2 linked regions of the Homo sapiens genome follow. The protein of the gene in region 1 interacts with the protein of each later gene in a pairwise test. Each region holds a gene or a part of one and is shown on either strand. Other genes may lie near its edges. The genes, in order: TNMD and CD33.

Region 1 (5,749 bases):
CAAATTCTCTGAAAACACCCTGCTAGACCAAAGTAAGGCAACCTAGGGTGCTGGTGAAATCACTGAATGGCCCTTTAAAACCTAATGGGAGATGGATGTTATTGCCTAAAATACAACGATCTGTAAGGCCCTTGAGGCTCTTTATTGTTCCCTGATATTTTGTCTATAATTACAGTATGGTTTTATTAGTGGGAGGAGAAGGGGGACCTCAGTTAAGGTCATATTGTGACAGCATATCCCCACTATAGCAAGAAAAAACAAACATTGGTTTGGTTTGGTTTAGTGCTTAGTTGCCAAATCTAAAGTGGAATTATGGCAATGGCAGAATGATCTTTCTTCTTCTTCTTCTTCTTCTTTGTATTTTTAGTAGAGACGGGGTTTCACCATAGCCAGGATGGTCTCAATCTCCTGACCTCATGATCCGCCCGCCTAGGCCTCTCAAAGTGCTGGGATTACAGGCATCAGCCACCGCGCCCAGCCATGGCAGAGTGATCTTTCTATAAACTATAAAAACCTCTTTCTTTCTTTCTTTCTTTCTTCTCTCTCTCCCTGTTCTTTTTCACTTTTCTCCCACCCAGCTCCCTCCATCTTGATTCTCACCAACCCATTTATCTTTTCCTTTACCTTTTTCTTTACCTTTTTCTTTATTTGGGGGCGGTGGGTGGGGAGGACTATTTTTCTTTCCCTTACCCAAGTCTTAGAGCTGTCATTGGCTCCCACTTTACTCTTTCATGCTACTGGTCTCCTCGGGGCCAGAGGAGTTACAGACCCTTGTTACTAGAATTTGCAAGAAAAAAAAGAACGTTCTCCCAAAGATGATGCTCTGCTCCCAAGGTCTACGGTAGTGACAAAGTTTGGAGACTTTTTTTAAAGTAAGCATAAGTTAGATGCATCTGAGGAATAGATCGACGTTCAGGATATTAGGAATGACTATAGAAGGCAAAGGTAAGATAAAAGGAAAATCAATAGGATTAAAAAGCTACTATACACAATAACATATGCTGATTACATACAGAAAATAATGTAAGCATTTGAGTAGGCCACTCAGCAATGAGAACCTGAAGTGATATAATAGGATTTATTTTTTTGAAAGATTAAGGCAAAGGAGGCGGGGCACGGTGGCTCACGCCTATAATCCCAGCCCTTTGGGAGGCCGAAGAGGGGGATCACTGGAGGTCAGGAGTTCGAGACCACTCTGGCCAACATGGTGAAAACCCATCTCTACTAAAACAAAACAAAACAAAACAAAATTAGCCGGGCATGGTGGCGTGTGCCTGTAATCCCAGCTACTGAAGAGGATGAGGTGGGAGGATCACTTGAACCCGGGAGGTGGAGGTTTCAGTAAGCCGAGTTTGCGCCACTGCACTCCAGCCTGGGTGACAGAGCGGGACTCAGTGTCAAAAAATAAATAAATAAACAAAAAATAAAGGCAAAGGCTCATAATGTCTCATTTTGGCCCTAATTTAGTCTTCAGTTAATTTCACCAAATATTTTAAATAACGCAAATTCATTTCATGATAGTAAGAACACTGTACCTTCAAGTAAATCTTGTTTTTTATATTCACGCCACAGATTTTTTTTTAATGAGACAAATTTGTGGTCCTGAATGACAAAAACCTTCTTCTGTAATTCCCTCCACACTGTATCCATGGCATGTGTATTTTAAACATGCAGAGCAGGTATATAAATAGCCCTGATTTTGCTAACAAAGCTAGTCAGCATACCAACCTCATTTTATACAATTCCTTTCAATGCATCTCAAGGTCGTTACAGACTCAAGGACAAAGGTGCTAAGACTTTAGAATTGTAAATGATTCCGGGAGAAATTAGTAAGAACTAGGTATACAACACAATTACCTCAATACTAGAAACTGAAGAGAAAGTGGCATCCTTCACAATATAAAAAAAGCTGCTTAAAGGAAAAACACTCTGTGAGATAAACTCTAAGCATTTACAATGAAAGGAATGCAATAGTAGGAAGGCCAGTGAAGTCATAAACTGGAGACTTGCCTTTAAAACATAAAAGGAAATCTTTTGTACTATAACTAGCTACCATCAACAGGCAAATCTTGTAAAACCAAAATATTAGATTACATTGTTATTGAATTGATCTCACCAGTTTGGATTATAGGAGTTTTGTCAGCTTCGGGTCAAATCCTGCTTGCCACCCAAGATGCAAACCTAAAATAAGGCAGGCTAATAAAATGTATTTATAAAAAAGAAAACAAATGTAAATCACTTAGGGTTCCAGAAGCTCAAGTTAAAACATACACAGACCCAGGGCACCCTGAAAATAACGAAGCCCCTTTCTGACTTTGAGTGAAATGGTAACAGAGAAGGCTCCTACTTTAGTAAGCAGTCTTGCTGTTAGACCCAGGAAGGAGGAAGGATCAGTTGTTAACTCCCCCAAGGGCACCCACTGAATGCAAGGCACAGAGCTAGTTCACCAGCAGCCCTAGGATTAAAATTGTTACACTCAAAATATATTGCTTTCCAGCATCCCATAATGTCTCACTTGTTCTACTAATTTCTCTGCCAATCCCTACCCTAAGCTACTTTCTTCTTTCAGAATGAAGAAATTACCACAACTTTCTTTGAACAGTCAGTGATTTGGGTCCCAGCAGAAAAGCCTATTGAAAACCGAGATTTTCTTAAAAATTCCAAAATTCTGGAGATTTGTGATAACGTGACCATGTATTGGATCAATCCCACTCTAATATCAGGTATGACATTCTTATCCTCATCCTCCTCCTATTTTCTAAGACAGTAACAGGTTAATGTTCCCAGCATTTAGAGGCTACATTTCTAGGAAAACAAATGATCGGTTTATATCTTCTTGGATGAGTCTATATATGCTGACTGCCAGTGAGGAGGGAATTTTTCACAGCCAAGTTATAAATCAGATAAATTAATGTTGACAGGCTTTTAAATATCCCAGCAAAGGTAACACCACCCTAATGTGACTAGTGATAGCAAAAAACTAATCTGTCTCTCTTTGCACATCTATATTCATTGCAGTCGGTATGCCAGACTATTGCTCAAACCACTGTGGGTCCAACCCAAGAATAGAGGAGAGAAGGGCAAAAACAATGCTCTGCTATCAAGAAGGATTCCCTATGTCAAATGGTGGCATTTTCCTTAGAAGATAGGACAATCACTGCAATACAAATTTCTTTGTTGCTGTTTTAGGAATTACTATAAAAATAGTTGAGGGCTTGATGTCCAGAGTAGAAGAGTCCAGCCCTCAACTTCCAGTCAGCCCATAGAGAAGGTAAAGGCCCCTGGATGTCTTAGTCTGTTTAGCTAACATGGAATTTGGCCTCCCTCATTCTGCACAGCATAGATTACTCTATTACCCAAGAGAGGTTATTCTCACCAATGTAAGCATCTGTGGGTACTCTTTAGAGATATTAAAAAGGTGACTAAATGCAGTGTGGTATCCTGGACTGGATGCTGGAACAGAAAAAAACATTAGTAGAAATACTAATGAAATCTGAATAAAGTCTGTAGTTTAGTTAATAACATTGTACCAATTCTAACTTCTGATTTTTGATCATTGTACCATGGTTATGTGAGGTAACATTAGGGGAAACCGGGTGAAGAATATGTGAACTCTGTACTATTTCTGCAACTCTTCCATAAATCTAAGATTATTTCTAAACAGAAAGTTTAAAAAAAATTTAAGACAAGAAACATAAGGGAAGTGGGAGGACAGAGGATGTCAAATCAATTCAGGCAACCAAGAAATATTTATTGAGCATCTACATGGGTAAAATCATCATTGTAGGAGATACAGAAGTCCCTTGTCCTCAGTTTTTAATTTAGTGTGCTATTAAGTCAAAGCAGTAAATGTTTGATGCCAAAGAAGCAAAGAAGTTTGTGTATGTAGAAATGATCAGGCTTGTTTTGGAAACTACTCTAAAATATCAGCTGAAGGAGCTTGGAAAAGTGGTCCATGCCTAAATGATGCCAGTTAGAAGACACAATGAAAATCTCTATCCCCAGCTGCTATTCTCCCAAGCACTTCTTTCAGGAACATTTGCAAAGCAGTTGCATCACAACTTTGCATTTATTATCTTAGTTTCTGAGTTACAAGACTTTGAGGAGGAGGGAGAAGATCTTCACTTTCCTGCCAACGAAAAAAAAGGGATTGAACAAAATGAACAGTGGGTGGTCCCTCAAGTGAAAGTAGAGAAGACCCGTCACGCCAGACAAGCAAGTGAGGAAGAACTTCCAATAAATGACTATGTGAGTTATGTTTATGTAAACTCTTGATAGAGGAGGAAAAAAGAGCCCTCACAAAACTTACTACCCCTCAGATCACAATCATTGGAAGGAGAACGATCATGGCTTTAACAAAAAAAAAAAAATGTTTAAGAAACTTGGAATCTCCAGGAGGCTCATTCAAAATCAATCTCGATCTCTGTAGATATATCTCCATGATCAGGCTAAGGAGCTTAATTTCTCACAAGCCCCCAACTCATACAGTCTTCTAGTTCTCCCCTGCTTGGTGAGAACTCTTGCTAGTGAACCTTCCTCTCCCACCCCCAACACTGGCTTCTTCTTCTTTCAGACTGAAAATGGAATAGAATTTGATCCCATGCTGGATGAGAGAGGTTATTGTTGTATTTACTGCCGTCGAGGCAACCGCTATTGCCGCCGCGTCTGTGAACCTTTACTAGGCTACTACCCATATCCATACTGCTACCAAGGAGGACGAGTCATCTGTCGTGTCATCATGCCTTGTAACTGGTGGGTGGCCCGCATGCTGGGGAGGGTCTAATAGGAGGTTTGAGCTCAAATGCTTAAACTGCTGGCAACATATAATAAATGCATGCTATTCAATGAATTTCTGCCTATGAGGCATCTGGCCCCTGGTAGCCAGCTCTCCAGAATTACTTGTAGGTAATTCCTCTCTTCATGTTCTAATAAACTTCTACATTATCACCAACAGCCTGATTGCTGCTGAACACACTGGGTAAGTGTTTGCTGAGAATATTCACAGCAACTGAAATGGAGCAGACCCGTCAAACATAGATGACTATGCTGAGGCTCAGAAAACAATGCCCCAAAATGAAAGCCTCAGAAGCAAAAGTTTTTCTCTGACCTTCTCCTACCTGCCAGTCTCTCAGTCCCATTCTCCCCCGAGGCTAGCCATAAAAGCTAGAATCCCTCTTCCTCAAGGCGTGTCATATAAATCAAAACCCCTTTTTTCCAAAGCCAGCCTTAAACCTAAAAATATCACTCTGATTTTTCCTCTGCTTTTCTGTGTAAAAGCTGGCCATAAGGAAATTATCTGACCTACCTTGTTTGACTGTAGGTCATAAGACTCCCTTTCCAGAGAGGATCCAACACAACAGGTTTGGAAGTAGAAAAGGGCAAAGCATAATGATACCTAAATATCATATTTTACTCTGCTGTATTAAGACAGTGGAAATAAGGAGCTGATGATAAAATGTCTCCATAACTGATGCATTAAAAACATATCCTTTTGTGCATAGCCCCAGTGTTTAATTATATGAAAGATATATTGTGAACTTCCTTAAGTATCAATTAAGCTGCTGGACAGGCAGTGAGTCATAGCAGGCCAACACTAAAATATTCCAAATGTGCAGACTCAGCAAAGGAGAAAGCTAAACTAGCAAAAAGGGTCTCAGGCTCTCCTCCTATAAACAGGAACTCAACTTAGGACAAATTCAACATTCCATAGCCTTCACATCTGGCTCCTCTTTATATCAGTGTTTGATTA
Region 2 (5,736 bases), on another chromosome or scaffold:
CTATGTCTGAGGTTCATTTCAGAAAGACCCAGGGTGGAGAGGAACCTGAGTCCTAGGAGAGATGATGTTTTGTGCACCAGAGAGAGAGGGTGGGACAAGAGGTGTCAGGTGCACTGTGTACTTCATCTCATGGTCGTGGTCAATATTGATGTCTATGATGGGTGGGAAGATCTAGGAGCTAAACCCCATTTTGGAGGTGAAGTCACCCCTCTCTACATGCTGGAGAGGAGGATACACATACCTGTTTATCTAGATTAGAATTCACCCCAAATCTTTTTTGTCTGCAGGGAAACAAGAGACCAGAGCAGGAGTGGTTCATGGGGCCATTGGAGGAGCTGGTGTTACAGCCCTGCTCGCTCTTTGTCTCTGCCTCATCTTCTTCATGTGAGCATTTTCTCTGGGTCAGGCATGGGCCAGAGGTGAAGAGGATGGACCTGGTGTAGAAGGGTCCTGGAGGGGCTGTGAGGGCTGGAGAAAGGGCAGGGGGTGTGATGATGTACAGAATCCAGCCTGTGGCCACTGGGATAGGCGTGGGTCTATTCCAGGGCCCTGATCTCAGATGTCCAAGGAGTGGGAGGTAGAGGGAGACCTTGTGACTAAGTCTTGTTTGAGGGCTCCTGGATTAATCCCACCCTTTACCTGCCAAAGTCCCTCATTCCAGGCTCATAACAATGGCCCCACAGCCTGAGAAAACCAGGCTCAAAGACCCTGGTGTCTCCCATCAGAGTGAAGACCCACAGGAGGAAAGCAGCCAGGACAGCAGTGGGCAGGAATGACACCCACCCTACCACAGGGTCAGCCTCCCCGGTGAGTGATGGGGCATCCTGGCATCCAGTCTGTCCTGCAGACACCTCCTCCCAATGTGGCCCACCGTCATGCCCCATTCAGCATTTCCAGAACTGAGCTTATTGTCTTTCCTCCTGTTTAACAGTGTAGGTTTTAATATTTTTCAGGTACGTTGAGGCCAACAGATCAGGAGATGATGGCCATTGAAAAGATAGTTTCTTGGCCGGGCACAGTGTTTCACACCTGCAATCCCAGCACCTTTGGAGGCCAAGGCGGGCGGATCACGAGGTCAGGAGATTGAGACTATCCTGGCTAACATGGTGAAACCCCGTCTCTACTAAAAATACAAAAAATTAGCCAGATGTGGTGGCTGGCGCCTGTAGTCCCAGCTACTTGGGAGGCTGAGGCAGGAGAATGGTATGAACCCGGGAGGCAGAGCTTGTAGTGAGCCGACATAGCACCACTGCACTCCAGCCTGGGTGACAGAGAGAGACTCTGTCCCAAAAAGAAAAAAAAAATAGTTTCTTATTCACCGTTCCCGAGAGGGCACACCACACCATGCAAGGCCATATGGAGAAGCACCAGGGTCAGTCAGGAAGCAGAGGGAGCAAGGAGAAAATGGGACAAGAGCCTTCACTGTGGCTTTCATGGAAAAGAATGGGCAAGACAGGGTAAGCAAGCTAGGCAGGTTTAGGATTGGCTACTTAGAACAATTTCAGCAGACTCTGGGGTATAGGAGTTGTCTCTAGTTGTCTGGTACATGGCCCTGGGTTTATTAAGGAGGATTGTGGTCTGGAGTGTAAGAGCTCAATAAAGGATCCAGCTGGTAGTGTGGGCTTTAGATTGACTGGTTTGCACATGAAAGGTGCACTTGTATGCAAGTCCTTTATTAGCTCTAGAAATCTACTATCCTTGGGAAAGGCAGTCTCTCAAGGGTCAGTAATGCCCCAGATGTCAAAACATCAGAAACACTTGGTTGACACACCCCTAAACATACTTCTCCTGATGGGTTCTCCATCTCGCTGATGGCACTCTTGTCCCCATTACCCAACCAGAGACATGGCCCCCTCCTGTCCCAGTCCTCCATCTCTTCCTGTGCCAGTATGCTACGATGCATGTCTGAGCTTCCTCTGAACACGGCTTAACACAACCACTCCTGAGCCGAGAGCCCCTCTTACTCCTTATTCTGCTGCAGCCTCACCTCCCATTTCTCCTCTCCAGAACATTAGCATCACCTCCCTAAAAGGTCATTGTCCCATCATTCCCAAGTTTGAAATGCACTGCTTCTCTACACTCCTGAAAGATTGGCATTCCAACAACTTGGTCTGGCATTTGGAGCAGGAAAACCAGAGTCCCCTTCAGTGCTATGCTCCCCCAACATTAGCCACTCAATCACCTCAAGCAGGGCAAGCTTTCTCATCTCAGAATCATTGCTGGGCTGTCCCCTCCTCCTCATATGCCTAATAGCTACCTGCCCAACTCCAGTGCATCCTTCAAGCTCTGATTTTTTTTTTAATTTATTTAACTCTGACTAAAGTGAACACCACAGTAAAGTTTTTGAACACAGGGTCAACCAGCACCCATTCATTCTGAAATATCTATATAATCCCATTTGCCAATTGCTCTAGGTCCTTGTGCCATTCTGTATTTTTATAAACACACAGTTTACAAATATAAAATATTCCTCCTATCGGGGGCTTAACATTTATTGGGGAAAGGGATGAAAATAATGAACAAATAAGCAGTGCAAATATACATGAAATAGGCATGAAATAAGTGCTATGGCAGGAAATGAAATGGGAGAACGGATTGGACAGTCCTGGGGGCCAAAGAATGGCCTTTGGGCAAACACCTGCAGAAAGAAAGTGAGTACAGTATGAGCAGTAGAGAATCATCAAGGAAGCAGCAAGTACCATGGCTCTGAGGCCGGAACACATCTGATGTTTTAGAGAAACAAAGTAGGACAGTGTGGATAAGGCAGAGTTACGTGTTGGGGGTGGAGTGTGGACTGAACAATGGTAGGTAGGAAATGAGGTTGAAGAGACATAGGAGCTGCAAATATTGCAGGATCCTAAGTCCATCATAGTTATTGATGCGTTTAGAGCAGAAGAGTGACATGAACTGACACTCATTTTAGTGGGAGTCACTCTGGCTGCTCTGTGAGAAACTCTAGTATGTAGTATAGAAGAGAAGATACCAGAATAGAAGATACACAGATAATCAAGCCAAGAGATGACTGACTCAGACTTAGTCCCAAGTAAGAATAATGAATCTGATGTGGAGAAATTGGGTTCCGGATACATCTTGAAGGTGGAGTCAACAGTATTTGCAAGTGGAGTGATGGAGTGCATGCAAGGCATGAGCAAAGATAGCTCACGGGCTCTGCTCGATAAGTGTCTCAGATGTCATAGGTGGGTCCACAGATATCATAGATGTCATGGATGTCCAAGAAGACCCCATAGATGTCATAGATGTCTATAGATGCCAATGATGATGTTCATGTGGTTAACTCAGAATTCAAACTTAAAAAATCAAATTGCCAATGATTAAAATTGCCATCCTTGAAGGAGAAGTCTATTTTCAAGTGTATATCAAACATTATTTTGGTTACCGTAAGTTTGAGGTGCCTCTGAGACATCCATGTGGAGATGACAAGTAGCAGGCAAGTGTCTGGAGCTCAGAAGAGGGCTCCACGTGGGAGACACAGAGGTTGGGAGCTTCCCTATCAACATCCAATAATCGATGAATCTACAAAGAAGAGAAGGGGTCCACAGACACAGCCCTGGAACCCTCCAGCATTTAATGTTAGGGAGATGAGGTGTAAATGGTGAGAAAGCTGAGAATGAATAGGAGCCAATGACCAGGAAATTGCAGGCTGTAGTGTTGGTGGCCAAGGGAAGATGGGGCTTCATGGAGGAGAGGTTGGTCATTTGTTTCAAATGCTGGTAAGTCTGGTAAGATGGAATCTGAGAAATGGCTATTTGAATGTAGCTAAGTGGTATGACAGCAAAGCAGATCTGATTTTTCTGCTGGAGGAAGATCTCTTGACTAGAGAGAGTTCAAGAGAGAATGGGAGGAGAAGAGGCAGAAACTGTGAGTTGAAGGACTCTTTTGAGAAACACTGCCCCAAATCTAGAACCAAGAAATGGGCCTGCACCAGCAAATGGTTGTACCCTGTAGACTTGCCATTTCTCCAGCATCTGCTCCTGTGTCTCTTATGATACCATGTTCCCTGTTTGTGTAGGGCTTTGCACCACTTGAACTAACTGCATTCCCATAGCTTCCCCTACCACACCATGAGCTCCACAAGGAAAAGCCTGGGTTTTATTAGACCTCCATCATTCTACTCTCTCCTGTTCATCTGCACACTGTCACAATTTGCAATTACCAGTCTGTTTCTGTCTTCATCCCCTGCAGTACTGGAAATCACAGGGCCCCTGCTCTGCTCTGCTCCCTCCTGAGGATCCAGTGCCCAGCACATAGGAGGTCCCAGAGACCTGGGACCGAGTTCAGGGTCAACAGATGTGTGACTTTGGAAATTACCTAAGCTCTCTGAGACCTAGTTTCCTGGTCTGTAAAATGGATTAAAATAATAGATGCCAAAGATGATGTCAGTGTAGCTGCCCAGAATTTTTCCACATTAGTCTCTGTGAGTATTCAAGAGAATTGCGAATCAATCAATACGTGCTACATGTGTTAGATAATGAATAAGTAGAGCCTTAATTAATTAACATTTGATGAAAGAATGAAAGAGTGAATAAATGTTCTGTCAGAGTCAAATTTACTTCATTGACCCTCTTTGCCTTCTCCTGGTCCCCCTCCTCACTGCCCTGCTCTAACCCCCTTCTTTCCTCTCCATAAGAAACACCAGAAGAAGTCCAAGTTACATGGCCCCACTGAAACCTCAAGCTGTTCAGGTGCCGCCCCTACTGTGGAGATGGATGAGGAGCTGCATTATGCTTCCCTCAACTTTCATGGGATGAATCCTTCCAAGGACACCTCCACCGAATACTCAGAGGTCAGGACCCAGTGAGGAACCCACAAGAGCATCAGGCTCAGCTAGAAGATCCACATCCTCTACAGGTCGGGGACCAAAGGCTGATTCTTGGAGATTTAACACCCCACAGGCAATGGGTTTATAGACATTATGTGAGTTTCCTGCTATATTAACATCATCTTAGACTTTGCAAGCAGAGAGTCGTGGAATCAAATCTGTGCTCTTTCATTTGCTAAGTGTATGATGTCACACAAGCTCCTTAACCTTCCATGTCTCCATTTTCTTCTCTGTGAAGTAGGTATAAGAAGTCCTATCTCATAGGGATGCTGTGAGCATTAAATAAAGGTACACATGGAAAACACCAGTCCTGGTGCAGTGAGAGTTCGGTGCATACTGGTTCCTTCCCCCTTGAACAGAAGTCATTAGTGATATTTGATCTCTGGAACTATATCAGCAACATGTCCATCTCACTTGCTGCTCAAAACCCCACCATATATGTCTTCCCTGACTTACCCTCCAACATCATCTCTCTCCACTCCTGAATCTTCTCTTTTCATCTCACCTGTCCCCTACTCGGATTTCTGCTTTCTTTATGTCCTGCTACAGGGAAAATCACATATTAGCATTTGGGGAATTTTCTAAAACTCAGAGCTGACCATAGTGAAAATAGTTCCCTAGATCCCCAACCCACAGGAATAATTTGAAGCTTCTCAATGTGACATTCTAAGTCAGAGATGGTCAACCAGTATTAGCAAAGGGCCAGATAGTAAACATGTTCAGTTTTGCAAGCAATGTGGTCTCTATTGCAACTATTTAATTCCGCCATTGTAGCAACAAAGCAGCCACAGACAATCTGAAAATGAATTATATGGCCATGTTCCGACAAAATGCTATTTATCAGAACAGGCAGCCCACGGGCTGTGGTGTGCTGACCTCTATTCTATGTTGCTCTG

What was found.
Region 2: the proteins of TNMD (region 1) and CD33 interact in binary tests that used the Homo sapiens proteins (3 or more experiments, as listed by UniProt).

The regions. Positions count from the first base shown.
Region 1 is NC_000023.11:100,594,935-100,600,683, forward strand, and holds the end of TNMD (tenomodulin), read left to right. Parts: intron 1-2,569; coding exon 2,570-2,723; intron 2,724-4,081; coding exon 4,082-4,248; intron 4,249-4,573; coding exon 4,574-4,783; 3' UTR 4,784-4,951; downstream 4,952-5,749. UniProt on the Homo sapiens protein: May be an angiogenesis inhibitor.
Region 2 is NC_000019.10:51,234,870-51,240,605, forward strand, and holds the end of CD33 (myeloid cell surface antigen CD33 isoform 1 precursor), read left to right. Parts: intron 1-287; coding exon 288-384; intron 385-648; coding exon of another isoform or gene 649-725; coding exon 726-807; intron 808-953; coding exon of another isoform or gene 954-962; exon of another isoform or gene 963-1,097; intron 1,098-4,648; coding exon 4,649-4,819; 3' UTR 4,820-5,147; downstream 5,148-5,736. UniProt on the Homo sapiens protein: Sialic-acid-binding immunoglobulin-like lectin (Siglec) that plays a role in mediating cell-cell interactions and in maintaining immune cells in a resting state.